Regions from separate parts of the Homo sapiens genome. Here region 2 is linked to region 1. The links come from fine-mapping of genetic effects on gene expression. A gene starts in region 1. The other region holds a variant in brackets. All regions are shown on one strand. Distances are from middle to middle. Region 1 holds the start of PYGL (glycogen phosphorylase L). Region 2 overlaps PYGL (glycogen phosphorylase L).

What was found. PIP is the estimated chance that this variant, and not a neighbour inherited with it, causes the effect.
Region 2: its variant is the best candidate, but not a certain one, in a credible set for the expression of PYGL in sun-exposed skin (GTEx, PIP 0.83).

The regions. Positions count from the first base shown.
Region 1 is chr14:50,933,954-50,951,143 of GRCh38, reverse strand. It overlaps PYGL (glycogen phosphorylase L), which reads left to right and starts at 6,661. Exons shown (of 20, transcript NM_002863.5): 1 at 6,661-6,983; 2 at 13,307-13,408; 3 at 15,959-16,037. The coding sequence starts at 6,741. LOC124903314 (a long non-coding RNA gene) reads left to right here and starts at 8,554. Exons shown (of 2, transcript XR_007064163.1): 1 at 8,554-9,035; 2 at 9,939-10,343. LOC400212 (a long non-coding RNA gene) reads left to right here. Exons shown (of 4, transcript NR_170195.1): 3 at 3,377-3,496; 4 at 4,680-4,854. RefSeq lists a silencer at 6,482-6,641 and an enhancer at 7,310-7,833.
Region 2 is chr14:50,917,004-50,929,856 of GRCh38, reverse strand. It overlaps PYGL (glycogen phosphorylase L), which reads left to right. Exons shown (of 20, transcript NM_002863.5): 5 at 5,757-5,888; 6 at 8,790-8,901; 7 at 9,234-9,316; 8 at 12,752-12,853. It also overlaps the pseudogene MRPL57P9. Among named protein-coding and RNA genes, the nearest start is that of PYGL, 21 kb to the left of the region's middle. The variant A/T (reference allele first, on the strand shown) is at 8,013.

The DNA of each region.
Region 1 (17,190 bases):
CAGGAACTCCCACTGGACTATGCCTAAGAATTCAAACTACTGTATCAATGAGCAAATCAAATATGACAGGACCTGAAAGTGTCAGGAACATCCGCTTGTTTCAAGACAAGCCAAATATACTCAGGTAACGAGTAAATGGTCACTGTCACAGCCAATTATAGAGATGGCAATGCAGTCAGCTGCATTGTCTGCAGACACTAAGGGAATTCAAAAGTAAAATAAATCTGGGTTCTCAGTCATCTTTCCTTTTCTTTTCCTTTTTTTCTTTTTCTTTTTATTTATTTATTATTATTATACTTTAAGTTTTAGGGTACATGTGCACAATGTGCAGGTTAGTTACATATGTATACATGTGCCATGCTGGTGCACTGCACCCACTAACTTGTCATCTAGCATTAGATATATCTCCCAATGCTATCCCTCCCCACTTCCCCCACCCCACAACAGTCCCCAGAGTGTGATGTTCCCCTTCCTGTGTCTATGTGTTCTTATTGTTCAATTCCCACCTATGAGTGAGAATATGCGGTGTTTGGTTTTTTGTTCTTGCGATAGTTTACTGAGAATGATGATTTCCAATTTCATCCATGTCCCTACAAAGGATATGAACTCATCATTTTTTATGGCTGCATAGTATTCCATGGTGTATATGTGCCACATTTTCTTAATCCAGTCTATCATTGTTGGACATTTGGGTTGGTTCCAAGACTTTGCTATTGTGAATAATGCCGCAATAAACATACATGTACATGTGTCTTTATAGCAGCATGATTTATAGTCCTTTGGGTATATACCCAGTAATGGGATGGCTGGGTCAAATGGTATTTGTAGTTCTAGATCCCTGAGGAATCGCCACACTGACTTCCACAATGGTTGAACTAGTTTACAGTCCCACCAACAGTGTAAAAATGTTCCTATTTCTCCACATCCTCTCCAGCACCTGTTGTTTCCTGACTTTGTAATGATTGCCATTCTAACTGGTGTGAAATGGTATCTCATTGTGGTTTTGATTTGCATTTCTCTGATGGCCAGTGATGGTGAGCATTTATTCATGTCTTCTTTTGAGAAGTGTCTGTTCATGTCCTTTGCCCACTTTTTGATGGGGTTGTTTGTTTTTTTCTTGTAAATTTGTTTGAGTTCATTGTAGATTCTGGATATTAGCCCTTTGTCAGATGAGTAGGTTGCGAAAATGTTCTCCCATTTTGTAGGCTGCCTGTTCACTCTGATGGTAGTTTCTTTTGCTGTGCAGAAGCTCTTTAGTTTAATTAGATCCCATTTGTCAATTTTGGCTTTTGTTGCCATTGCTTTTGGTGTTTTAGACATGAAGTCCTTGCCCATGCCTGTGTCCTGAATGGTAATGCCTAGGTTTTCTTCTAGGGTTTTTATGGTTTTAGGTCTAACGTTTAAGTCTTTAATCCATCTTGAATTGATTTTTGTACAAGGTGTAAGGAAGAGATCCAGTTTCAGCTTTCTACATATGGCTAGCCAGTTTTCCCAGCACCATTTATTAAATAGGGAATCCTTTCCCCATTGCTTGTTTTTCTCAGGTTTGTCAAAGATCAGATAGTTGTAGATATGCGGCGTTATTTCTGAGGGCTCTGTTCTGTTCCATTGATCTATATCTCTGTTTTGGTACCAGTACCATGCTGTTTTGGTTACTGTAGCCTTGTAGTATAGTTTGAAGTCAGGTAGTGTGATGCCTCCAGCTTTGTTCTTTTGGCTCAGAATTGACTCGCTCTGTCACCCAGGCTGGGAGTGCAGTGTGGCGATCTCAGCTCACTGCAAGCTCCGCCTCCTGGGTTCACGCCATTCTCCTGCCTCAGCCTCCCAAGTAGCTAGGACTACAGGCACCCGCCATCACGCTTGGCTAATTGTTTTTGTATTTTTTAGTAGAGACGGGGTTTCACCATGTTAGCCAGGATGGTCTCGATCTCCTGACCTCGTGATCCACCCACCTCGGCCTCCCAAAGTGCTGGGATTACAGGTGTGAGCCACCGCACCTGGCCCTCAGTCATCTTTCTAAATATTTGAAACAGCGGAGCCTGGATAACAACCTTGGTTAACAGATTCATACATTAAATATGCTGAGTGCAGTGTACTCAAATTCCCTCATTGAGCATAAAGCTCAGCCCATGGTTTACACCACCCCTTTCCAGAGTGTTAGTGACCTGTCTGTGGGGCCACTGTGGACCTCTGGCATTTCCCTAGATTGCAGAACTGATTAGAAGATGGTCAAAAACCAATAAACAGTACAAAACAGGCCGGGCGCGGTGGCTCACGCCTATAATCCCAGTACTTTGGGAGGCCGAGACGGGTGAATTACCTGAGGTCAGGAGTCTGAGACCAGCCTGACCAGCATGGTGAAACCCCCCTCTCTACTAAAAATACAAAATCTAGCCAGGCATGGTGGCGCACGTCTGTAATCCCAGCTATTCAAGAGGGTGGGGCAGGAGAATCACTTGAACCTGGGAGGCAAAAGTTGCACTGAGCCAAGATGGCGCCATTGCACTCCAGCCTGGGTGACAAGAGCGAGATTCCGCCTCAAAAAAAAACAAACAAAACAAAACAAGTGAGTAGGGTAATAGGTTAGCTGAGATGCAGTCAGAATTCAGGTTTACTTAACAGATCACAAATCCTGTTTCAGGGGAGGAGAAACAACATTAAGGGATTTGAAAACCTCTTCCATCACTTACTGGTGAGGTGATCTTGAGCAAGCTACTCACCTTCTCTAAGCCTCGATTTCCTCATCTGTGAAATGGAAAGAAAAACAGAACTTGTCCCACAGAGCTGATGAGAAGATTAAATGAGTAATGCACATTATGGGCCTTGCCAGAGTCCTTGGAAAATGCTAGTTGCCGTTTTGATAATCTGAAAGTGGTATGCCACCACAATAGGCCCTGCTTTGAAACATAGTGGGTATTAATCTGTATTTGTTTATCTCATATCTTTCTGTGGTGGTCACTAGAAAGGACCTCATAGATGCCCCAAGCTGCAGGAAGCATAACCGACCCAGGGCTCCAGATAGCCCTGCAGAGGCCATGCCTCCGGGAGGATGATCCCACCAATGACCGAGCAGAGTACCGTGGACTCCTGACAGCAGATGCCCTCCAGAACTGCCCAGCAGCACTGCTGGATCTTCCTGGGACTACAGGGCTGTCTGAGATATGCCCTTCTACCCTTCCCTCTCTCTCCCCTTCACTCTAGGTCACACTGGCATCACAGTCTGATGCTCTCTCTGGCTAGCACTCCCCGTTTTTCCCTCCCACAAGCATTTACCCCAGTAAAAAATCTTAACATGTTTAATCCTGTTTTAGCTTCTGCTTCTCTGAAGACCCGAACTAACACACTACTTTCTCATGTTTTTTTGTATTTCCAACAGTGGGAAACTTACACTTGTCCTATGAGTTCTGGACTGTTTGTTCAGCTACTTACAAACGCCATTTCGTTACAGCAGCCACGGGGAAGCAGTGGATGAGAAGCAGGAATAATATAGGCCATTGTGAGTAAGGCTGCTATAAACATGTGAGCCACTGAAATCTGATACTTTTTCAGGGATCCATAGTTTCTGGTTCTTTCTGGTCAAGAGAGGCTAAAGGAAAGGTTTTTAAAGATATTAATTTTCTTAGTCAAGTAACTTAACCTCTCAAGGCCTCAGTGTCCTAGACTAGCACAGAACAAGCAGATGAAACAAAGTTTATATCAGAATGTCAACTGAAAAAGTATCATTTACCATAAATGGAAGATAATTGTATTAAATTCTAGTTAGATGCTAAAACTTCAAGAACTTTTAGAGTCTGTACCTGCATTCTGTTAAAAATATAGATTAAAAAATGCTAACATGTTAACACAAAGGACTTTCCAGAAAGACTTAAAGAAAAGTGAAAGGGGAATAACTGTCTTGCAATGTAATTCATTGTCGTTTAAGACTGGGTCTATGGAACACCCTAAATCACCTGGTTCCATCACGTTCTTTTTAACATGGAGATGGATAGTTTTTCCCCATACTCTATATATTGAGCATTCTATAGTTCATGATTTTTCTGCATAGAGAATTGTTCAAGCCGGGGGTGCAGGCTCACCGACTGGATAGTGAATCAAGAAAATAGTGTGTTCATTAGTTCATCATTACCCTGAGTTTCCAACAAGAATTTAGTACAGGAAAGTAGACAGCGGAGCTGGGAGCCATCTATTTGAAACTGTCTTAAGCAAAACTAAGAAACCGAGTAAGCTTGCTTTTGGTGTCTTTCATCCCTTCTTGTGTGCCCCCTAATTATTCACTCCCCAATGCCCAGACATTATGATGCCTTCTCCTGCTCAGAGACCTTTCTGGGAGGAAGACCTACTCAGACCTGGTATTCCCTCATCCTAGGCTCTACCCTATTTTTCATCCAGCTGTTAAAGCTGAGTGACTAATTTCACACTTATGTACGAATGACCCATAACTGGCTTAATGCTGTGACCATCTTGGGGGTATTCAAAGCTGATAAACACTTTTTTAAGTTATATAATAATCAAAGAAGCTTATCTTTCTGCTTTATTTCAAATTTCACCCCACAGGCCTTACTTATTTTTAAGATCAATGATTTTGATGGGCCCCCCCTTCCCACTCTTAATTCAGGGTATTTCTGGCCCCATCCGGATCCAAACTCTAATGCTCATCTCTTCCATACTGTCCTTTGCAGGTCATCGGTATTGCAAGAGTTGCATAAGGCCCAATTCAGTCTCTGCCCCAAAAGCTCAAGTCCAAACTTCAGAATCTGGGAGGACAAGGATTCAGGAAATTTTGTCAGAACTATGAGCTTTGAACTTTCACTTTTATGGTGAGGGTCACATTTGGTCTGAATCAATTAATCCATTACCCGCCCCCCCCCCCCCCCCCACCACCACCATGTGTGAATTCAAAATAATCAACTTGGGTTTATTATAAAAAACAAAATATATTAATATAAGTATACTAAGATTTTTCTAGAAAACTTGGCCGGGCGCGGTGGCTCACGCCTGTAATCCCAGCACTTTGGGAGACCGAGGAGGGCGGATCACAAGGTCAGGAGATCGAGACCATCCTGGCTAACACGGTGAAACCCCATCTGTACTAAAAATACAAAAAATTAGCCGGGCGTGGTGGCGGGCGCCTGTAGTCCCAGCTACTCGGGAGGCTGAGGCGGGAGAATGGCGTGAACCCGGGAGGCGGAGCTTGCAGTGAGCCCAGATCGCGCCACTGCACTCTGCCTGGGTAACAGAGTGAGACCCTGTCTCAAAAAACAACAAACAAATAAACTTAGAAGAATATATGTGACTATTGGCCGGGCGCGGTGGCTCACGCCTGTAATCCCAGCCCTTTGGGAGGCCGAGGCGGGCAGATCACGAGGTCAGGAGATAGAGACCATCCTGGCTAACATGGTGAAACCCTGTCTCTACTAAAAATAAAAAAATAAAAAATAAAAAATGCGAGGTGGCGGGCGCCTGTAGTCCCAGCTATTCAGGAGGCTGAAGCAGGAGAATGGCGTGAACCCGGGAGGCGGAGCTTGCAGTGAGCCGAGATCGCGCCACTGCACTCCAGCCTGGGCAACAGAGTGAGACTCCGTCTCAAAAAAAAAAAAAAAAGAAGAAGAAGAAAGAAAAAGAAAAGAAAAAGGAAAAAGAAAACTTAATTCTGGCAATGGACTGTTTCTAAAATAATATATTAATACTACTTAATGAGGAAGAAAAAACCTCTGACATCCTAAAATGCCAAGTGTTTGCCTTTACCAAGGTTTAAGCACACATAAACACGCATATTCAAATACCACCCAAAGTGGAGGTGCAAAGATCAGCCTGTACCGCACAGTAACACAGACTGGGTTGTTTTTTGTAAAGAAGGCAACTAGTCCAGTGAGTAATCCCTTCATTTTCCACACACATACCCTTCTGTTTTCTCCCTCTCCTCCCCCCACACCCTCCACTGCAGTTAAAACGTAATTCGAAGAAGCCTAAGGTAAAAGCCCCTGCCGCATAATGACCCTAGAGCTTCACCTCACCTACTCTGATTCTTAGTAACCTACCTCTAAGGATGAGAGACAGGGTGCTACGAGCGGGGCGAACTTTGGTCCAGGAGTTAAGAAACCTGAACCCTGGAGTCCTCAAAAAAAATGAATGAAAATAACAGAGGCGCCCTGAGGATCCAAGCTGGGGCGGTGCCAAGGGCTGGCAAGTGAGGTTGGGACAACAGAAGTCAAACGTGCCGTCCTTCCAGATCCCGGCGCTTATGGCGGAAGCCACTCCAGGTGAGAAATCCTAACAGTCATAATGGCATAACAAATAAACATCGGCAAAACAGCAGTCTGCCAACGACGTGCTTCCCTACACAGACGTCCTCCTGTCTCCACACTCTAGAGGGGAGAGGCGGAACAAATGCTGCCTCCGCAGATTTTGGAAATCCGGAAGGGAGCCTCCGAGCCCAGGTCCCGGGCTGGCAGGGGTCTCGCCGGCGCTTGGACCTCGTCTCCCACCCCCGAGCCCACTGCGGCCCCAGAGCCTCGGGAGGGGCCGGGCACTTCCTCTGCCCTCCGGCCTGGGGCAGGGGCCGGGACGCGGTGGGAGTGCAGCGGGGACGGCACCGCCCGAGGGGGCGGGCCCCAAACTTTCGTGCGCGTTGAAAGCTGCTGGCGCGGCGGGGCGGACTCCACCCCTGCCCGGCAGCCCAGCGCCTCCGGCCGCACTTCCAGCTCTCTGCGCAGCCCGCCGCGCAGCCCGCCGCCCCAGCCATGGCGAAGCCCCTGACGGACCAGGAGAAGCGGCGGCAGATCAGCATCCGCGGCATCGTGGGCGTGGAGAACGTGGCAGAGCTGAAGAAGAGTTTCAACCGGCACCTGCACTTCACGCTGGTCAAGGACCGCAACGTGGCCACCACCCGCGACTACTACTTCGCGCTGGCGCACACGGTGCGCGACCACCTGGTGGGGCGCTGGATCCGCACGCAGCAGCACTACTACGACAAGTGCCCCAAGGTAACCGGGGGCGGGACGGCGGGCCGGGGTCCAGCCCGGAGTCGGAGTCTCCGGCCGCGGCCGGGCGGGACGAGGTGGAGAACCCCTCAGAGTGGTCCCTTGCACCCGGTCCTTGCCCCGAAGTCCAGAGGAGACGTGTCTAGGCTGTGGGCGGGCAGCCTGGGGGACAGATTAGGCCTCCCAACAGACGCCGAACTCATGTCTCCGAGGTGCCACCCGCCAGTGTCCCGCCCAAACCACTGTGCCGTCCGCCCCTGGAAACCGCCAGGTGGGCAAAAGCCCAGGCCCCTCTCGCCTGTCCACTTCACAAACTTTTTTGGAACTTTGACTCTCAGCATTTAATCAAGAGGTGACGGGGGCCTCTTGTCCTGTATGCCGGACACTATTCTCTGCCCTGGACACTCAGCCCTAAACAAAAGGGACAAAAATCTTGCCTTGCTGGAGCTTGGTATTTTGGGAGGGGAGACAAACGCCGAGCTGGGAAAAGGTCGTAAGTCTCAGGCCTCTGGGAGTGGCTAAGTGTGGTGCAGAGGAGGGGCAGGGTCCCGCTCCAAGCGTAGAGCGCCGCCCACCCATTCTCCTGAGTGGGTGTAGCTCCTGGAATTCCGTGAGTCTTTCGCAAAGGCGGCCCAGGGCCAGGCAATGCCCTGGACTCGTCCTCCCCGAAGACACACACTCCCCCGACCCTTAGCCCTTCCACACCCGAGGCCTGCCCCCAGAGCTGCTGAGGAAGGCTGGTCAGGGACCACCTCCATCCACGGCGTGGGGGCGGGAGCAGAGACCTCCTTAGGGTGATTTTGGACCTACAGAGGGACAATATCTCTGCCTGACAGTTTGCGAAGAGGGCGAGAGGCAGTGGGGAAGGACTGGGGAGGACATGGCAGGGAGAGGGATTGTGTGCAGGCTGGAGTGAGGGCGGGTGTGAGTCTGTATTGGGAGAGGAAACTGGAGAAGCCAGGTAGAGACATATTGGAAAGAATAAAAGATTGGGATACATCCCAGGGGCAGTGGGAAATATATATAAACATTTATTAGAACTTTTTAATTATGTAAAGGTGTGAAGAAAAAAAAATGGTCTATAATCCCAGTGCCCAAGAAACCCCATAGGAATTTTTAAGAAAGGAAATGAATGTAAATTCTCATAGTAAGAAATTGCAACTGTAACAGTTTTCAAATGGAAAGTAACTCTTCTTCACCCCAAAGACCTAGGCCTCCACCAAGGTAGCAACTGCTAAAATGTATCCTTAAAAATTTAAATGCACCTTAGAAAACACTTTATGTATACATATATTTACTGTTTTGTTGTTTTGTTTTGTTTTGTTTTGTTTTGTTTTGTTTGAGACAGAGTCTCACTCTCGCCCAGGCTGAATGAAGTGCAGCGGCGCCATCTTGGCTCACTGCATCCTTCGCCTCCAGGGTTGAAGCGATTCTCCTGCCTCAGACTCTCGAGTAGCTGGGACTACAGGCTCCTACCACTACACCTGGCTAAGTTTGTATTTTTAGTAGAGACAAGGTTTCACCATGTTGGCCAGGCTGCTCTCAAACTCCTGGCCTCAAATGATCCTCCTTCCTTGGCCTCCCAAAGTGCTGGGATTACAGGTGTGAGCCACCACACTCGGCCACTATCTTTTAAAAATTTATTTACACAAAGGGAATGCTACTAAGTACACCATACTGCGCCTCTCATTAAAAATTATTTTTAACAATTTTAAGCGGAAGGGTGGGACACTGAGCATATATTAGAAACACACACTCACGCCTCTGTAGCATTTAGCATCATAGAGCACCAGAGAATCTTGTATGTTTTTCCTTCAGTGGCTTATGCAGTGCTTTATGGTTTTCCTGGTTCTCCGGCCAGTTTCTTCACTGGGCTCTCCTTTTCTACGTGAGTGCAGATATAAGCCAGGAATTCCGACGTGTGTAAATTCTGATAGCGATACACTGGGGATACAACAATGAACATGTTTCATTCCACACGTGTTCATCAAATATCTACTCCATCACAGTCGTCTGTCTAAACAGGATGGTTCCTGCCCTCATAAAGTAGAGCAAGTAGGTGTGTCCAAGCTCCTCTCCCACCTCCCTTGCTCTCCAATAACTGTGCAGATGAATCCCAAATATGGATCCCTAGTCTGAATTCCTTTTCTAACTCTATGCGTACATTTCTGAGTGTTTAGTGAACATATCTAGATATCTTCCTATTTCCTCAAACTCAGTACGTTAAAAACTCAAACCATTATTTCTCCCAATCCTGCCCCATCTTCCCGTGTTTTGTTTTGTTTTGTGACAGAGTCTCACTCTGTCACCCATGTTGGAGTGCAATGATGCAATCTCGGCTCACTGCAACCTCTGCCTCTCGGGTTCAAGTGATTCTCCTGCCTTAGCCTCCTGAGTAGCTGGGATTACAGGTGCATGCCACCATGCCCAGCTACTTTTTGTATTTTTAGTAGCGACAGGATTCCACCATTTGGACAGGCTGGTCTCGAACTCCTGACCTGGTGATCCACCCACCTCGGCCTCCCAAAGTGCTGGGATTACAGGCATGAGCCACCACGACTGGCCTCTGTGTTTTTTGTTTTCATGCCATTGTCATCTTGACAATCCAGACGCAAACTTTAGTCTCACTTTTTGCCGTTCAACTGTTTGCCAATTTCTGTTGATTTCTATAGGTTCCCTTGAATGACGTGCTCTCCTCCATTATCTCTTCCTGCCTTGGTGAGGCTCTAGCTACCCATTTGTTGCAGCTGACTTCACGTGGTTATTTTGCTTTCCAGAAGTGGTAAAACCGGCAGCCTGAGGCTGAATAAGGATAGCAGACATACTTTGTTGGCCAAGACATTTTTCAGGAATTTAATTTTTAGCGCCTGTGGTCAGGACTTGCACACTCCATTTCTTAGCCCAGTACTCTTCTTTGTTTTATGTGACCTCAATTACACATTTATTTTCTCTGCCTAGCTCCTGAAGGCATTTGAGTATATGATCCCGTCTCATTCTGTGCATTGTGGTCTGCTCAAGCTTCCTAAAGCAACGCATCTTGCCCCTGCTCAATTATCATTGGCTCCTCTTGCCTGCCATAGAACTTAAGCAAGTATTCGAAAGCACTTCTCAGTCCAGGTGGGCCTGTTCTTCCCTTGTTATCTTCCATTACCCTCTGTACCCACCTTGCTCTCCCAACAAACCAATCCCCACTCTGGGCCCCCGATTCACTTGCAGTGTCCTTCCTACCACATTTCTATGCTCAACTCTTGCCTGTCCTGCAAGTCTCAGGTTTATTGACAGGTGTTCCAGAGGTCTTCCCGGAAGTACCCAGGCCCTCTGACTAATGCTGGGGATAAAAATAAAACATACAATTTAAAAATATTTGTTATATCTTCTTTATTTTATTTTACAAGCCTTTTGAAAATATCCACTTTTTACATAAAATACTAGTAATCATAGTACATGCATGTAATTTATAAAGTATATTGGAGATGCTCATATATTTTACTATCAGTCATATGTAACAAATATTTAGAGACCAGTAAGTAAGAGTATGGCCAAGATCTATTTTTTGAAGTCTTATATATTCCCAAATATAAGGAGAGATTACCTCTAAGAAGTTATTTGTGAGAAAACAGGGAATCACCTTACGTTCCTGTCCTTATAAAGTCTGTCATGCAAGGAAGTATTTTCTCATTTACTTTATTCTGAGCAACCACATATCTCTCAAGAGAGACTTTGAAATATTTTTAAGAAGACTTAAGTTCGTGCTAATGTGGAATCATTAAAAAGGAGGCAAATTTAATACAGATGTAGTCATTATTCCTGGGGGTATAACCTCACAATTGCAAGTGTGGAATATATACTATATAAACAAGCTTTTTGTAGATTACTTAAAAGAAAAAGGCAAAACATCATGGTTATAGAGATAATGAAAATACACACATGGAAGGATTTTTTTAAACTGGGTAATACTATGCAAATGGGTATTTGTGGCTTAAGATACTATTACCTGTGACAGCGGTCATCACGTACTAGAGCACCAGCCATTGCCTATGTCTGCCCCAGAGAAGGTACTTTTATCCAATCATTCGAAGGTATCTAATAGCTGGTGAGGGTTCTAGTAACAGCATTATAGACATTCAAACAACTTGGATGAAAACGAAGATGATGTGTTCTGGAAAGCAGTGTTAGGTGGCCCGTTAGGTCATGGATGTTGACCATTTGTTGTGAAATTTAGAACTCAATTGTTCATAAAAGGAAAATGGGAAAGAATGAAATTTCCAAGTTGACGTTTTCAAATAATATTTTGTTTTAAATATTTATGTGTAACTAGTATGTTAAATATGATAATACGCCTTTATTATACTGAATTCTACTCACAATTTTTTTTGATTGGCCAAATTATTATTTTTTCTTTTTTTACTTCTTATCTTATGGAAATGGGGCAATCCCTAAAATTTGAGGTAACTATATTGGTGCATTTACAGATTTTTGCCATTTTGTTTTGTGTCTAGTAGAGAAGAGAGGATAGATGATTGGAGAATAAGATATTGTAAAAGGGGGCAATGAAGTTACTCACTGGTGCTTTTTTTTTTTAATTAGTAAACTGTGCTGTATATAAAGAAGGTTTTCAGCAGGTCTGAACTTTGTACCTCTCACCTTCAACTCTGATGATATTTGCCTGACTTTTACCATGTCAAAGGCAAATAATGTCTAAGTCAATAGAGAAATTTCCAATTTCAATAAGAACAAACACCAATAAACCTTAGGTAGTCTTCTTGTTCATAAGGAACTTGCCAGTAAATAGACTTTATAGAAAAATTTGATTCTAAAATTAATTGTAGGCCGGGCGCTTGGCTCACGCCTGTAATCCCAGCACTTTGGGAGGCCAAGGCAGGCAGATCACCTGAGGTTAGGAGTTCAAGACCAGGCTGGCCAACATGGCAAAACCTTGTTTCTACTAAAAATACAAAAATTAGCTGGGCATGGTGGCAGGCGCCTGTAGTCTCAGCTACTCAGGAGGCTGAAGGAGAATTGCTTGAACTAGGAGACAGAGGTTGCAGTGAGCTGAGATTGCGCCACTGCACTCCAGCCTGGCCGACAGAGGGAGACTGTGTCTCAATCAATCCATCAATAAATAAATAAATTAATTAATTAATTAAACTGTAAAATTTCTTACAGTAATCAGCCAAGGAGGAATATTTTCTACCCATGCGGTGTGTGGGAGTTAATCTTTGTGTTTCTTGGATGACTTGAGATAGTCATAGCCAACTCAGCTTACCGGCACCCACCAAGGTGCCCTATAAATATTTTATTAATGAATGGTGAGCTATGGCCGTCTGACTTCTGTTTGTCCAAAACCTATGCTTTATTCATGAGGTTCATGATCAGGAGAGGGAAAAAACACAAAACATTGAATCTACTTAGATGAGTTTGCTTTTTTTCTCCCCGGGGGTAAAAAATACTGAATTACTTCGCCAAAAATAGTGCTTTGCCAAAACCTGTTGTCAGTAACACTTTTATTTAGTCCTTCATACATCTCTATAGGAGTGTTAGCAGAAAGGAGTCACCATCCCAGACTCCAAGAGAGGGTTCTTGGATCTCGCACAAGAATTTGAGGCAAATTCATAGAGTAAAGTGAAAGCAAGTTTATTAAGAAAGTAAAGGGGCCGGGCGCAGTGGCTCGCGCCTCTAATCTCAGCACTTTGGGAGGCCGAGGTGGGCGGATCACCTGAGGTCAGGAGTTCGAGACCAGCCTGACCAACATGGAGTAAACCCCATCTCTACTAAAAATAGAAAAATTAGCTGGGCATGGTGGCGCATGCCTGTAGTCCCAGCTCCTCAGGAGGCTGAGGCAGGACAATCTCTTGAACCCAGGAGGTAGAGGTTGCAGTGAGCTGATATTGGACCATTGCACTTCAGCCTGGTGACAGAGCAAGACTTTGTCTTTAAAATAAAAAAAGAAAAGATTTTGAAATATTTTTAAATATCTTAAGTCCATGCTAATTTGGAATCATTAAAAAGGAGGCAAAGAAAACCTTTTATCAGCAAGGTTTCTGTGACCTGTATCTTGTGCAGACCTCCTATTTCATCCTGTGACTTAGAATGCCAAACGTTCTGAGAATGCAGCCCAGTAGGTCTCAGCCTTATTTTACCCAGCTCCTATTCAAGATGGAGTCACTTTGGTTCAAACACCTCTGACGGGAGTCTCATTCGAACCTGTGGTGACATAGTCCTGCCTGTTTGTTTCTTATTGGTGACCTAACACATGACCTTGTGTTTTTATGTTAAGTGAGGTTGATCTCTTGGGGGAAACATTATCTCTCTTTTCTTTATTTCAGAGGGTATATTACCTCTCTCTGGAATTTTACATGGGCCGAACATTACAGAACACCATGATCAACCTCGGTCTGCAAAATGCCTGTGATGAGGCCATTTACCAGGTACATTGTTCCTAGATTTCTCTCATCCTGTCTCTTTAAATTTCATGTGCACTTCAGGAAACTTGGGGACATTGCACAAAAAAATAAAGTAAAATAAGAGTGAAAAATCGCCTCTATAGATGTGGCTATTACAAACTTTTAGAAATATACATCACTGGTAATCTCTCATTTAAGAGGAACAACCAGAAAAAGTTAGATAACTCGTTATGACTCATGAGAATTTTCTTTTGCAATCAAAGTCTTTGACAGCATTCCTCACAGATTACATTTCAGAAATTAGTGTCTGAACAAGCCTTTTAAAAGTACTTGAGTCTTCTGCTATCAGAATCACAATCTTTACTTTGGGCTTCTATCTCATTTTTAAGAAATGATCAAACTTTGTTATTCATGTATCAAGGCAATTTGTGAAAATGATCAGCTTTAAAAATTCTGTTGTCATACTTTCTCTGTTGCTTAATGAGATGTAAAATACACTTCCTCCTTAAAGGAGAAGCTTGAAGTCTTAACCCTAATGTGCTAAGTTGTTTTCATGAATATATTTAACTTTTTCTTTCCTGAGCTTCAGGCACCTTCATACCCAAAACAGGTAGCCCTTAACCTTTTTGATGTGGTTGAAAGGAGAAATGTGTATTTGCAAAGACACATTCTAAATGAGAGACTGTTCAAACTTTTCATTTCCTTTGCCATGGGATTGTCCCCTCATGTGTCCTTCGCTCAAGAACAAATACGTCTACAACCAGGTCATAGCTAACTCACATACATGTGGGTTAGGTGGAGTATTTCCTGTGAAAGAACCCCTGCAGGTCCTCTCCATGTCCCTTCCCTCTCCTTCCCCTAATATCAGCTGAAAATAACATCTCTCCCTTGGAGTAGCCTATAGCCAGGCAGGGTGATGTGATCCATGTCTACTTGCTCAAAATTTATATCATACTTTTTTTTTTTTTTGAGACGGAGTCTCGTCCTGTTACGCAGGCTGGAGTGCAGTGGCACGATCTCAGCTCCCTGCAATCTCCACCTCCCAGCCTCAGCCTCCTGAGTAGCTGGGATTACAGGCATGCACCACCTTGCCCAGCTCATTTCTGTATTTTTAGTAGAGATGGGGTTTCGCCATTTTGGCCAAGCTGGTCTCGAACTCCTGACCTCAGGTGATCCACCCACCTTGGCCTCCCAAAATGCTGGAATTACAAGTGTGAGTCACCGTGCCAGCCTATATCATGCTTTAGACTTACGTTTTTAGAATTTAAAAATTCTGAGTGTTAGCACCAGCAGTTGGCTTACACCAGGAACCTAGTAAGCTCTAATCTGCAGAGAGCAAATTTGAAAGGCCCTTTAACACTGAACAGAAGCATAACCAAGGTTGAACTCGTAAGATACAGTTGTCAAGACCTGTGTGACAGGTAGGAATCCAAACAGGTGCCATGGAAACGGGGGCACAACTTCAAGCACTGGTGCATCTTCCACATATGTCTTCAAATGTGCAAATTATTTTTCCATTTAAAAAAAATACCCAGTTTCATGGGTTGCCTAACTTCAGATAAGAACCCAGTTGTTTCACAGTAGGCCACCTTTAGCCATGCCTGGGCTAGATTAGCATCTAGTCAGGATGGAACAAGTCATTTGCCTGACCAACAATTCTTTCATCGTAAAATGAGCAATCCAATGTGATCTCCAGGGCTGCAGAGCTCTGTCATGGGTGCCCAGTGGTGCTGTGGACTCTGCTGTGTGATCCCCAGCACTTTGGGGCAGGGAGCTAGCTGGCAATCAGTCCCATCCGTGCCCAAGTTCACAGATGCTATTTGGCTTCCCACAGCTTCTTATCCACCCCAGGGAAAAGTAAAGGATTTTACCCCATCCAGCTGGATTGCAGGACTGCAGTTTCCCTGCCTGCTGTCAGGACCCAGGTCTCCAGGGCAGTAACCCACTAACTGGTTTTGAGTTGACAACTTTTGACCCTACTGAGTAAATATGCTGTGGTCATGAAAAGATGAACTTTAGTCCATTCTGGAACGTCTGACCCTGAGACCTTTCGGTCATTTTCAAAATCCCTCAGTCCAATTAATATCAGCTTGGTACTGGACTGTTTCTGAGGTTTTAACCCTACTGTACACACACACACACAATTTTTTTTAATGATAATAGCTAACATTTATTGAGGGATATCTGCCCAAGAATAGTTCTAAATGCTTTGTTTGTATAATCTCATTTAATTCACGGCAATCATCAGTGAGGTAGGTACTGTTAGCCTCCACTTTTTTAAATAGGAAAATTGAGGCATAGAGTTAGTAGCTTGCCCAGGGTCATGTAAGAAGTAACAGAGTCAATAATGGACTTTTAGAGCTTACACTTTTCTCCATGCTGCAGCTGCACCATCTCATACAGTTTGCCTCTGCAGTCAGTACCTGATGCCAGAACAAGCTGCAAGGGAGCTGACGCTAGATTAGGTACACAGCTAAACCTGAATACCTTTACCCAGAGCTGTAGGAAATGGCTGTCCCTCTGAATGGCCTGAATTTTTATCTGCTTCCAATATTGTTTTCCTTTCATTACCAGCTTGGATTGGATATAGAAGAGTTAGAAGAAATTGAAGAAGATGCTGGACTTGGCAATGGTGGTCTTGGGAGACTTGCTGGTAAGTGACATTGTGAGTGTATTATATTGTCTGGCCGATTGAAGACATCTCAGATGCCATGCATGACCATGCTTGCAAGAACCAGGCAGGCTTCCTAGAAGAAGCGCAAGGTATGACCTGGTTGTAGATGTATTTGTTCTTGAGTTTGCACTTTGGTTTGATCAATTCTAGACAAATAGTAGAGATGGGAACTTGAACAAAAGAGACACTGCTTAAAACTCAGTTAACCAGATCCTTCCTATGCACTTAAGAGTATGTTAAATGTTAACACACTAAAAAATTTATTATGCTAGCACCCCCTTTGATCACTACCCCAGTTCTGTGCTCCTCCCTATAGGGGGTCATAGGGAACAGTTTAGTATTTAGAATTCCAGACCTTTTTTCTGCATATTCATTCACATTATATACATATGTACACACAAACACACACACACATATATATATATACACACACATACACACACATGTAAATGTCTGGAATATATATCTTCCAGACCTTTTTTCTACATATTTACACACACACATACACATATATATATTCATAGAAAATATTTAATTTTTTAAAAAATAAATGGTATCACACTGTATGGCTTTAATACAATGTGATTTCTTTTTTAGTTTGGAGATCTATCCAGTAAAGTACGTCTAGGTCAAAAGTAGTGTCTTTACTTCACTATTATTTGTTCAAAGCTTCTCAATTCACATCCTTGTGTGGCATGACCTAAGTTAAGTTGCTGTTGTTTTATTTTATTTTATTTTTTCAGTGGTAGACTCCAGGTCAGAGGCATGACCCCAGTTGGTCAACCATTGTCTTGCCTTGTGCACTTGACTGCTTGATTGACTAGTGGGCAATGATACACTAATATTATTGGTATGATTTTGTTAATAATGTCCTTTTTGTGTGTGGATACAATTTGAGTTCTTTGCTTTTTTCAGGGAATAATTTTTCATCAAATATATAGGAAAGCACTAAAAATACAATACCAGCTCCATTAGTTTAGAAAATACACATCTCTATAACCAAGTAATTCCACTTGATATCTACCCTAAAGAAGCACACACATAAGAAGACATGTGGGGAAAATAATTGTTACAGTGTAGTTTATAAAAGTACTACACTGATTGTTGAAGAACAAAATTGACCTAGATGTAC
Region 2 (12,853 bases), 19 kb after region 1:
CATAAATAATGTGTATTTTGTAATCATTAAAAGTTATAAAAATGAAATAGGTTGTTCCTCTCCCCAATGGAGTAACCTAGAGTTCCATGTTGAGAGCCTATTTAGCAGGCATGTCCAGGACAACCAACACTTTGACACAACCTAACCAAACAACACATGGTATCTAATTTTAGCCTTGGAAAAGGATACCATGCGCTACTCACTATACTCCAGAATTTCCAAGGATCTCATTTCTTATCTCTTAACTATTATCAGATGGAAGATTTAAAAGAAACTCAGAAAACAAATCTCAATTTTTTTTTTGTCTCAGGTATATTTTCCCCTTACGTTTTATGAAGGGTCACTGTTATCACACCTACCTTTGCTCTTTTTAAATGATCTTTGTTCCAGGAAACTATCTCTTTCTCTCCTATCAGACCAAGAAAGCATGTATTCCAGTGTTCTTTAAAAAGAAAAATAAAGAAAGACCAAATAGGTTTTGCTCATTCAAAATATTGCAAAGCTGGCCAGGTGCAGTGGCTCACGCCTGTAATCCCAGCACTTTGGGAGGCCGAGGTGGGTGGATCATTTGAGGTCAGGAGTTCGAGACCAGCCTAGCCAACATGGTGAAACCCCCAGTCTCTACTAAAAATACAAAAATTGGCCAGGAGATAGTGGCGCGTGCATGTAATCCCAGCTACTTGGGGGCTGAGGCAGGAGAATCACTTAAGCCTGGGAGATGGAGGTTGCAATGAGCTGAGATAGTGCCACTGCACACCAGTCTGGGCAAGTGAGTGAGACCCTGTCTCAAAAATAAAATAAAATAAAATAAAATAAGATAAAAGAAAATAAATTCCAAAGCTAACCTTATCAACCATCATCACTTCTTTCATTATGACTTGAAATTGAATCAGAAGGGTATATAATTTTACTTACCACCTCCATTGTTTACTGGGATGGGATTTTAACCGTCAAACATAAAATATATCATACCATAAAAAAGAAATTATTTCCATAAAAAGCAAAATGCATCTGTCAAGAAAGCAGCAGGCCTTTTCAGAGTATAGTCATGCCCCCACTCAACACGTAACACTGTTCTTACAAAGGCAGATTTGGAGAAGGCTGATGAAAATTCCACATGCTGGGAAGATTTTTAAAGGTTGATGGGCTTTTAATTTTTGAGTCTCTTCAAGGAAGATTTGCAGGCGTGGAGTGTTCATCGTGCACCCCCTGAAATTGTGTTGCTAAAATTCTATATTTACCATCTCCTCTCATGGGGAGTGCAGTAACAGTCCTCTATGAAAATAGCTGGCCTAGGAGGAAGTGGGGAGAAAGACAATTGCAACAACCTCACAGAAGTTTCACAATCACACCAAAGCCCTGGGTGGAAAGGCACTCACAGTATGTATCTCGGAGCTGGATCCAAGTGGCTTCTGCAACCCTTCTCTTGCCTCTTAGCACCCACACCAAGTTCGTAATAGCCAGTCATGCGTGATTCACATTACCCAGCAAGCTTCTAATTATCACTGTGGAATTCTTGGTGTGCCACAGAAACATTTATCAGTTATTATAACATCAGAAAGCCAAGTTCATGGGCTCTCCTGATGACTGTTCACTGGTTCTTTGTCGACTCTGTATCCCACAGGTGCAGAGAAGAGCATTTCTTAGAATTCAGTCAACAGAGTCCCCTGGGCTGACCTCTCCATCCCTGCTGGCTGGGACAGATTCCATTGAGTCATTCCTCTAAAGAAATGCCTAGTCCAGCTGCCACCTGCACCCAGGTTGGCTCTTTTACTCCACAGATCCACGCTTGCTTTCTTCAGCCCCGTGCAGCCTCTGGGATGAAACAGCTCTGACAGCTCACTTGGATGTAGATGAAAGTTCTCCCACCTTGGCCCCCCACCCCTACCCCTTCATATGATTGGCATGTTAGTGCATTTGGGGATCACTGGCTACATGGAAACCTAAATTTACAGATCAATTTGTCAATTCATTGGAAGAAAGCAAGGTAGAGAGAAGGTTTATCACCATCTTGCAGCTTCTGTAGATTTAGTGGAGGCAGCAAGGGATAGTTCTCTCCTCCTCAGATCTACTCAGGTCAACTTGTTATGAAACGCTTGTTTCTCAATCTACCTTAAAAACAAGCCTTATAAAATTGATAGAATTATTCACCAATTCTTTATTGAATCAGCGGGAGATTCACAATAAAGAACAGCAAGCAAATAAACTCTCCTACGAGTTGTTAGCCCCATGAAGCTAAAACCAATCATTTACTTGGCAGGAAAAAAATTCAACCAACATTTGATGGCATTAAGAATCTCATGTAAGAGTGTACCCTCAAAAGAGCAAATGTGGCTTATCGTGGTGGCTCACGCCTGTAATCCCAGCACTTTAGGAGGCCGAGGCAGGCAGATCACTTGAGGTCAGGAGTTCAAGATCAGCCTGGTCAACATGGTGAAACCCCGTCTCTACTAAAAATACAAAAATTAGTTGTGTGTGGTGGCGGGCACCTGTAATCCCAGGTACTTGGGAGGCTGAGGCAGGAGAATCACTTGAATCTGGGAGGCATATGTTGCAGTGAGCCAAGATTGTGCCACTGGACTCCAGCCTGGGCGACAGAGCAAAACTGTGTCTCAAAGAAAATGAAAATAAAAATAAAAAGAGTAAATGCAACCTCTGACTTCCACAGGAGTCAGGGACTGAGCCCACAGGAGGAAGTTCAGTGCCCATCCTCTCTTATCTGAGCATTTCAGGCTTCTTGGGGGCAGGACAGTATATCATCCTGCTGCATTTCTCAGCAAAAAAATATGTCATCAGTTCTCCCATGGTCATGAGTTTTCAGAGGAAAACTGTTTCTGCCTCATCGTCTTCCTATTTCATACAATACCTTCAGATGGGTTTTACAACAGCCCTGCATGCTGAAATGAGGCAAACAGGCCTATGGTTCTTTCCTGTTACAGGAAGCAGTGTTCACATTGCTCAGTATTTTAAAACCCAAAATTGGCCCTTGCCTAAGTGCAGCATAAAGTATTTTGTAAGTCAAGATGTTTTGATCCTTTGTTGATGTCATCATTTTATTTATTATAGCATTTCTAGTTATGAACCCAAGTTAATGGACTTTTTCTTTTTTTTTTTTTTTTTTTTTTTTTTTTGAGACAGAGTCTCACTCTGTCTCCCAGGCTGGAGTGCAGTGGCACAATCTCTGCTCTCTGCAACCTCTGCCTCCCAGGTTCAAGTGATTCTTTTGCCTCAGCCTCCTGAGTAGCTGGGATTACAGGTGCCCGCCACCATGCCCGGCTAATTTTCATATTTTTAGTAGAGACGGGGTTTCACCATGTTGGCCAGGCTGGTCTCAAACTCCTGACCTCATGATCAGCCCACCTCGGCCTCCCAAAGTGCTGGGATTACAGGCGTTGCCACCACGCCTGGCCAAGTTAATGGACTCTTTAACAAGCTTCTTGACAACTGGCAAACTTCAACTGTTTCTTTATTAAAATTTTATTTTATTTTATTTTACTTTATTTTTTGAGATGGAGTCTCACTCTGTCACCCAGGGTGGAGTACAGTGGCATGATCACAGCTCACTGTAGCCCTGACCTCCCGGGCTCAAGCAATCCTCCCACCTCAGCTTCCTGAGTAGCTGGGACTACAGGTGCACACCACCACACTCGGCTAATTTTTAAATTTTTTTTAGAGATAGGTTCTCACTATGTTGCCCAGGCTGCTCTCAAACTCCTGGGATCAAGTGACCTTCCTGCCTCAAAAAAATTTTATCTTTGTTCTCTTATGACTGGGATAGCGGAAGTTTAGTTTTTAATTCTGAATTACAGATTACAGTTATTGACTTTGCATTGCCTTGTAGCTCTTGGCTGCTCTTTGTGGGGTTCAGGGACCAGTAGAATCAGGAGCCCCTGGGAGCTTATTAGGAATGCAGAATTTCAGGCCCCTCCCCAGACCTACTGAGAATCTGCATTTTAAGAAGATGTGACTTTCTGACGAGCTCAGATCTCTCTCCAGCCTTCCCTAGGGTTCATCTTGCATCTGATACCTCCTCCTTCCTCCAGTGGCTCTCTAACTCCTAGCTCTTCCAACTAAAGATGTTGTTGCTATGAGTCCCATTTCCATTCATCATTACACTGGTAGTTAATATTAGTGGGAAGCTTACTGGCTTTCTTGATAAACAACACTATCAAAATTTGAATAAGTGAACTTGTATTCATTTCTCTGGCTGTTGACAATAATGGTTAGTCTAAATTCTCAAAAGATAGTGGCTGTGTTTATTTTTGTCTCTTCACACTGTTCCTGAGACAGGCATTACACTCATGTTTAGGTGATCATGAGATGTCCAACATTGTGTTGTAATTCTTAAGCAGTATCTTCTAAAACTAAAGCTGAGTTTTCTAAGAGGTGAATATGAGGTATCAAATAGGTAAAATAACCATATTGGAGATTATCTCATTGACAAAGCTGCTTTGTTTACCCCCTTCTGGCCAGAACACAATTCCATTTTTTAATGTATAGTCATGCACCACATAATGACATTTCAGTCAACAATACAACACATATGCAATAGTGGTCCCATAAGATGGTAATGGAGCTGCCCCCTGTGGGTGTACCATTTCTTATGTTTTATACTGAATTTTTACTGTACTATTTCTATGTTTAGATATACAAACACCATCGTGTTACCATTACCTATAGTATTCAGCACAGTAACGTGCTGTACAGGTTTGTAGTCTAGGAGCAGGAGGCCATACCATATAGCTCAGGTGTGTAGTAGGCAGCACCATCTGGGTTTGTGTAAGTGCACTCTGTGATGTTTGCACAATGACAACGTTGCTTAAGAACACATTTTTCAGAATGTATCCCTGTCGTTAAGCAATCCACAACTGTATGTGTCATATTTTAAAGGTTTCAATAATTTAAAAATACATCCCCCTCCAATGTGTTTGGTGGTGGTGGTGTTCTTATTTTGATGTGTTTGTTTGTTTGTTGCAAATGAAAATGTATTTGATGTCCAGGATATCCTAAATAGAAACCATAGTTTAAAATCGTATATAAGAAATATTTTGTTATAAATTGACATAAATACCTAGGAAAATATTGAAATTGTCAATAAAATAAGTTCATTACCTCTTGGAATATGTTATTTTCAAAATAAACTATAATCTATAGTTCATTATCAAATCAAAATTACATAAGGATTGAGATAAGCAAAGACTACATAATGCAATAATGTTCTGTACCTATACCAATAAGCTTGATTAAAAGAGTGTTCTGTAAGTAGCATTTTCTAACTGATTCTGTATATTCTAGCCACAAGAATCTTGACTGAACCCTTTGTGTAGGACTCAACAGGCCCAGGTATCCAACGATAAACATCCCTGTAAGGCGTCTGTCTTTAGCTGAAGCTGGACAATTGGATTCACAGACGTTAAGACAGAGGCTCTGGAACACAGAGACCTAAGGGCAGATCTTATCTCTATCGTTTACTGTTTGACCTTGAGATCTTATCTCTACCGTTTACTATTTGACCTTGAGCAGTTACAATTCCTCATCTTTAAAAGAGGATTAAATGCAGTAATACATATAAAATATTTAGAGCTGTATTAGCGAGTATTATTGTTGATGTAGGCTGTAAAAAAGTTACAAAACAGTACTCAGTATTCATAAGTTGTTTCAGTTAAAGATGTTTTAAATTTAATATAATATAATTGAAGTGCTAGGTTCATATTTCCTGACAAATAAATTCTAAGCAATACTGTATCCTTTTGCAGGTAGAAGAAGCAGATGATTGGCTCAGATATGGAAACCCTTGGGAGAAGTCCCGCCCAGAATTCATGCTGCCTGTGCACTTCTATGGAAAAGTAGAACACACCAACACCGGGACCAAGTGGATTGACACTCAAGTATTCAGAGTGCTCGTATAGCCAGCGTTTTGTATAGTATTTAGTACAGTAGATAATACATTGACTATGTAGCATATAGTGGTGATATTGAGTATAGGGCATGTCGTGTTTTGAATAATAGAATATATTTTTGTAAATAAATCTGTTACTTCTCTTAGCGCAGCCCAGTCATTTTGGAGACAAAGGAGCTGAGGCCAAGAGAGGAGTGACTTTTATAAGGGTCATTTTGCAACCAGCTTTGTCAGAAAATTGTCAGTTCTTTTTTTTTTTTTTTTTTTTTTGCCAGAAAATTGTCAGTTCTATAGTAACCAGCATGCTTACCTCTTTGGTTTTATATTAAGGTGTTGATAGCAAAATTGAATAATTTGAAATGTCATTCCTGGCTGGGTGCAGTGGCTCACAACTGTAATCCCAGCACTTTGGGAAGCCGAAGCGGGCAGATCACCTGAGGTCAGGAGTTCAAGACCAGCCTGGCCAACATGGTGAATCCCTATCTGTACTAAAAATACGAAAATTAGCCAGGAGTGGTGGCCCATGCCTATAGTCCCAGCTACATGGGAGGCTGAGGCAGGAGAATCGCTTGAACCTAGGAGGTGGAGGTTGCAGTGAGCTGAGATCATGTCGCTGCACTCCAGCCTGGGTAACAGAGTGAGACTCTGTCTCAAAAAAAATAAAATAAAATAAAATAAAAATAAAAGTTTGCAGTTTACACAATCAATCCTGGAAGCATTTTATTTACACTGTGGGTCCCACTGCTGAGCTAACTTGCATTTACAAAACACCTCTAGATACTGTCATAATGTATCCAGAAATTCAATTAGAGAGAGTGTGTGTTTCTGGGCCAACAGAGGCAAGGTTAGGGGGCAGAGGTAATATAAGTGAGCTGGCCCAAGCCATGCAACTTAGCCTCATAGATTGAAGTCATCACATGAATTAACCCCAAACTGGTACCCAGTGATGTCAGAGCATGAGTCCAGATGTGCTCTGTGCGTGCATGGGATGGCTTCCAATAAAGTCAAATGACACAGTCACGTGTCAGTTTAGGTCCTCTAGGAAACAGACACCAGAGAGAATGAGAAGTGCAAGTGACATATTGGGGGATGCCTATGAAAGACAAAGGGGAGAGGGAGCAGGATGAGGTGGGAAGGCTTCAGACTGTGACACAGGTGTGCCACCTGTGAAAAGTGAAGGGGAAAGAAGCAGCATTCTCAGGGAGAGCCTCAGACCACAGTGCCACTCTGAGCAAGTGGCCAGGCTGATGGAGCCTGACACTAAAGATTGCCCATTAGAGAAGTCTCGGCCCTAGTGTCCCAGCCACATGGAGTGTCCCAGAGAGCGCAGCTTTGGTGTGAGCTCTGAGGGAGCAAGTCCTCTTTGAGGTTCTCTGAAAGAAGATCTAAGCTGTGCACTTCTTGGGCTGCCTTAATTATGCTTCAAGGGTCAGAAGGGTCCAACTCTTGTTTGAACCGAGACTCAATCCCAGCCTGCAAATGACTTTCCCTGATTGATTACAACTTGCTTTAAAAGTCCAGAGACTTTTATCTCTTAATGAAAGATATTTAAATGAGGGTGATTTATTACTTTGAGGTCGCGGTGATCACGAAAGTATGACTGAGTATATGTGATTGATATGGGCCATAATGCTTCATTCATTCACAATTCAGCAGACCAAATTAAAGAGATGCGTGTTTAAGTTTCAATCCTGCCATGACTGTGATCTTGGGCAAGTCACTTCTCTCTCAGCTTCAGCTCCCTCATGTCCAAAATAAGTGGGTTGCACTAAATGAGATCCAGCATCCTCCAGTTCAATTATTCTGTCATTCTCCTTCCTTCGAGCTTGACTCTGATGAGGCCGGGAATAAAAATGAATGATTTCTCACTTGAATTTTCGATGCACTGTGAAACATAGTTAATCTTCCTCTTCTCTATTTCAGTGACTGTCACAAAGATCAAGCTAGATTTTCCAAAGCTTACCTCTTAGACTCAACTCAGCTAATTATCAGCTGATTTGGCAGATCACTGTAGGAATCACTAAAATAACTCCTTATGCAACTTTAAAAATCTAGCATAGCATTTTAAATATTATATGAGATGTTATAGCTTCATAAATTTCCTATTCCATTT[A/T]CTTTCATCATACTTGAAATCAGATCACTGAAAAACCTATGCAAAACATATTCTAAGTGCTATTTTTTGGTGGGTACAGATTCACAATGTCACTTTGTTTGCATATCATATTTTATTATTATTAGAGCAATGGCTTTATCTGAAACATGAAAGATAAACTTTTTTGGCTGGGTGCAGTGGCTCACGCCTGTAATCCCAGCACTTTGGGAGGCCGAGGTGGATGGATCACGAGGTCAGGAGATCGAAACCATCCTGGCTAACACGGTGAAACCTCGTCTCTACTAAAAATACAAAAAAATTAGCCGGGCATGGTGGCGGGCACCTGTAGTCCCAGCTACTCGGGAGGCTGAGGCAGGAGAATGGTGTGAACTTGCAGTGAGCCGAGATTGCACCACTGCACTCCAGCCTGGGCAACAGAGTGAGACTCCGTCTCAAAAAAAAAAAAAGATAAACTTTTTTGAATACAAATACCATATCATTCCATTCCACTGCATTTATATCAGGGCAAGGGCACATGGAGAGTCAACATAGAAATACTGTAAAGGACCATCAGTGTGGATGGTTTCAGTCACTAGATTGTACCAGGTCGGGGAGGAACCACATGTTCCTCTAATACCCTCTGCAGCCCTGAGACCCTCTTCTCCATTTAGGCCTCACACAATTTAAGTTGGTAATGGAGCCAGGAATAGAATTCCATTGCAGTCTCCCAGCCCCTTGTTCAACCTATGTCATCACACTTGGGAAACAATGAGCAGCTGCTTCTGTTTAATCCCACAGGTGGTCCTGGCTCTGCCATATGACACCCCCGTGCCCGGCTACATGAATAACACTGTCAACACCATGCGCCTCTGGTCTGCTCGGGCACCAAATGACTTTAACCTCAGAGACTGTGAGTACAGCACAGGCCTTGGTTTCTTTATGCGTGTGCTTAATCTTTTTGATTGGTAGTTAGAACCAAATTGAGCTTGAAACAAACAAAAAAGCCTTGAGTTTCTGATCTGAACTTCACTGACTAAGCAGGCATTGTATGGAGGAAGTAGGGAGGGCATTTTTAAAGCAATTCTCATGTGAAGTCCAGCATGACGGTGTGTTGAAATCCTTTGGGATTTTTAGGAATTTTAGGAATCCCACATGACACACAGCACAGAGCCAGTGAGATCAAGAGGTTTCCAACAACAATGGCTGGTTTCTCTATTTATTGTTTCTCTAACTTTCCCCTAGTTAATGTTGGAGACTACATTCAGGCTGTGCTGGACCGAAACCTGGCCGAGAACATCTCCCGGGTCCTCTATCCCAATGACAATGTGAGTGATCAAGGTTGCTTTCTTAGTGGCAACAGAGGCAGCTTATTTCACAAGAGCCTGTTCAGTAACCTATAAAACACATTTAATATTGATGTTTTTCCATGTGCAGAACAAGCTCCGTATTTCTTCCTGAATTGTGTAGATTTCTCCTCCCAACCAAGTAAGGAAAACAAATCTGTATAGTGCATGAAATCAGAATTGGTATTTTGCCCTTGATTAGTGACCCCATCACTAATTGGGAAGTTATTGAGATGTATTTTAAAACAAAACCTGGATATAAGAGATGAAGTAAATCACTGGTGAAGCACTGCCTCCTTTCCAGATAGAAATTTTATCTGCAAAGTCAGAAGTCACTGAATATTTTCTGCCTCGCCTCTTCTCTCACTGACTAGGCTCTTTCTGGTCCTCTGCCCTGATGCTAGATGGAGTTAGAGACCCTGGGGCAGACCCATGAACAAACATCTGTTTCTTCTGCCACTGACTTGTATCTTTTTCTTATAGTCAATTATTCTAATTTTATTGTAAATATAGCTTAGTTAAAAAAAAAAAACACTTGGGGCCAGGTGCAATGGCTCATGCCTGTAATCCCAGCACTTTGGGAGTCTGAGGCGGGCAAATCATTTGAGGCCAGAAGTTCGAGACCAGCCTGGCCAACATGACGAAACCCTGTCCCTACTAAAAATACAAAAAAATTAGCCAGGTGTGATGGTAGGCGCCTGTAATCCCAGCTACTGGAGAGGCTGAGGCAGGAAAATCGCTTGAGCCTGGGAGACAGAGATTGCAGTGAGCCGAGATTGCACCACTGCATTCCAGCCTAGGTGACAGAGTGAGACTCTCTCAAAACACACACACACACACACACACACACACACACCACTTGGAACTGGATCTCAGATAACTGCTATTGATTCTTGGTTGTTTTAAATATATGTAACTCTAAACTTCTCTATGGGTAAAATCATTTTCATGAAGCTGTAATGATTTTTTTAAAGTGGTCTCAGAAGCAATAAAATTAGCACTCTGCTTTACAAAGATGGCAGAAGACAAGGATCTTGGGGGGACTAGGACATAAATAGTCCTTAATACCAGATGTCCACCTGGTGTTAAATCATAATCTCTCAGAAAGGAAGATGATTATGTGGATTTTGCTGGAGCATTTTTAGGAACCTAATGGTATATGCTATTATTCCTTTGTGGAAAACATTGTGGCTTCAGTACATTTCAGAGAAATCTCTAACCCAAAAGCAAAAAGTTATTCTATGTCAGGGTCAAAGTAAGAGTTCTTCCAAGTCTGGGACCGTACTGCCAACCTAAACCCAGTCTGCAGGGGCTTGAAATTCATCCTCCTGTCTTCAGTAAGGACCAAAACTAATTTTACTGGGAAATAATCGTCTGCAGTAACTGACAATATATACTAAGTTAGCATGGGGTAAAAAATTGACTAGATTTGTTGGGTAAAAGGGAGTTCTCAGGATCATGTTTTTGTTTGTTTGTTTGTTTGTTTGTTTTTAAGAGTAAGCTGAAAAATCCTTTTATACTGTAATTACAATAACAAATTCATTCTTCTCCTCAACTTGGCCATAGCCCTGGCATAGGTCAGTGATTATACTTTTAAGTATTAGGGAGTTCAGAGCCCCAGATATTCTATATGCAGACCTCTATGCTCATATTCATTAGTTTTAATAAGACTCTGGTCCAAGGCTTACATTTGGGGGATGGGGTGCTCATCATTTTAAAATTTTTAATTTTAATAGTTTTAGGGGTACAGGTAGTTTTGGTTACATGGATAAGTTCTTTAGTGGTAATTTCTGAGATTTTACGCACCTGTCACCTGAGCAGTGTACACCCAATAAATTGTCTTTTATCCCTCAAGTCCCCAAAGTCCGTTACATCATTCTCATGCCTTTGCATCCTCATAGCTTAGCTCCCACTTACAAGTGAGAACACACGATATTCGGTTTTCCATTCCTGAGTTACTTCACTTAGAATAATAGCTTCCAGCTTCATCCAAGTTGCTGCAAAAGACATTATTTTGTTCCTTTTTATGTCTGAGTAGTATTCCATGGTATATATATACCACATATTGTTGTTGGTTGATGGGCGCCTAGACTGATTCCACATCTTTGTAATTGCGAATTGTGCTGCTATAAACGTGTGTGTGTACATGTGTCTTTTTCACATAATGACTTCTTTTCCTTTGGCTAGATATCCAGTAGTGGGATTGCTGGATCAAATGGTAGTTCTACTTTTAGTTCTTTAAGGAATCTCCATGCTGTTTAACATAGTAGCTGTACTAATTTATATTCCCACCAGCAGTGTAAAAAGTGTTCCCTTTTCACCACATCCATGCCAACACCTATTGTTTTTTGACTTTTTAATTATGGCCATTCTTGCAGGAGTAAGGTGGTATCTCATTGTGATTTTAATTTGCATCTCCCTGACAATTAGTGATATTGAGCATTTTTTCATGTGTTTGTTGGCTGTTCATATATCTTCTTTTGAGAATTGTCTATTCATGTCCTTTGCCACTTTTTCATGGGATTTTTTTTTCTTGCTGATTTGTTTGAGTTCCTTGTAGATTCTGGATATTAGTCAAGGCTCACATTTTTAATAGAAGTTACAGTTTTTAATTCTACGACCAGGTAAAGACAGGGCAGCTCCATGATCTATAAAAATCGAAGTGTGATGGCTCAGGGTTAGGACCATTTCTTGGTGACATTTACACGGTTGAGGTGACCGACAGCAAATCTATGTGGGAGGAACTTGGAAGCTGGCCACCATCATGGCCTCTAAGGCCTCCACCCTGCACACCATGGCCTGGCTGCAATCCTGTCTCGCAGTCATGTAGGGCATTCTCAGCTAGTTGTGGTTCTCCACACGGTCCATGGCTGCCAGTGCTTCCTGATACGTTGCCTGCCAGCAGGAGGGCGGTCATGTGCTGGTTGTGCTCAGCTGCAGGAACTGGGGATAAGGTTGGAGGCCAAGTGTCCTCAGGCTGTCATTAACCTTTTCCTTCACTTCTTCCCTGCTTCCCAGTACTTGGTACTACCAATTCCTGAGCCTTGGGGAGCTCCAATGTACACACTGAGTTGCTTTTTGGCTTTTCCCCACTACCAGGTCAGGATTTGGCTGTCTTGGATCTTCTGAATCACTTACCACTCATGCATCTGTTTTTCAGCCTCTAAAAGGTTGTTGCTATTGTCTTTATCCCAACCTCTTTATCTTTTATCTGTATGCCTTTAGAGAATCCTTTCACTGCCATTTTCATGGGGTCTCAGGAAAGAGCAAAGGCTCACAGTTTGGCATTCAAACCACCACCCCTCAGCAGATGTCCAATGGGCCTTAGTCTTAAAGTTCCTAGTGCAGGAGACACCAGTCACATTTTGGCCACACCTACAATATGAACCATTTTTATTCTATCTCTCTGGCTTGAAGTTTTTTGAAGGGAAGGAGCTAAGATTGAAGCAGGAATACTTTGTGGTGGCTGCAACCTTGCAAGATATCATCCGCCGTTTCAAAGCCTCCAAGTTTGGCTCC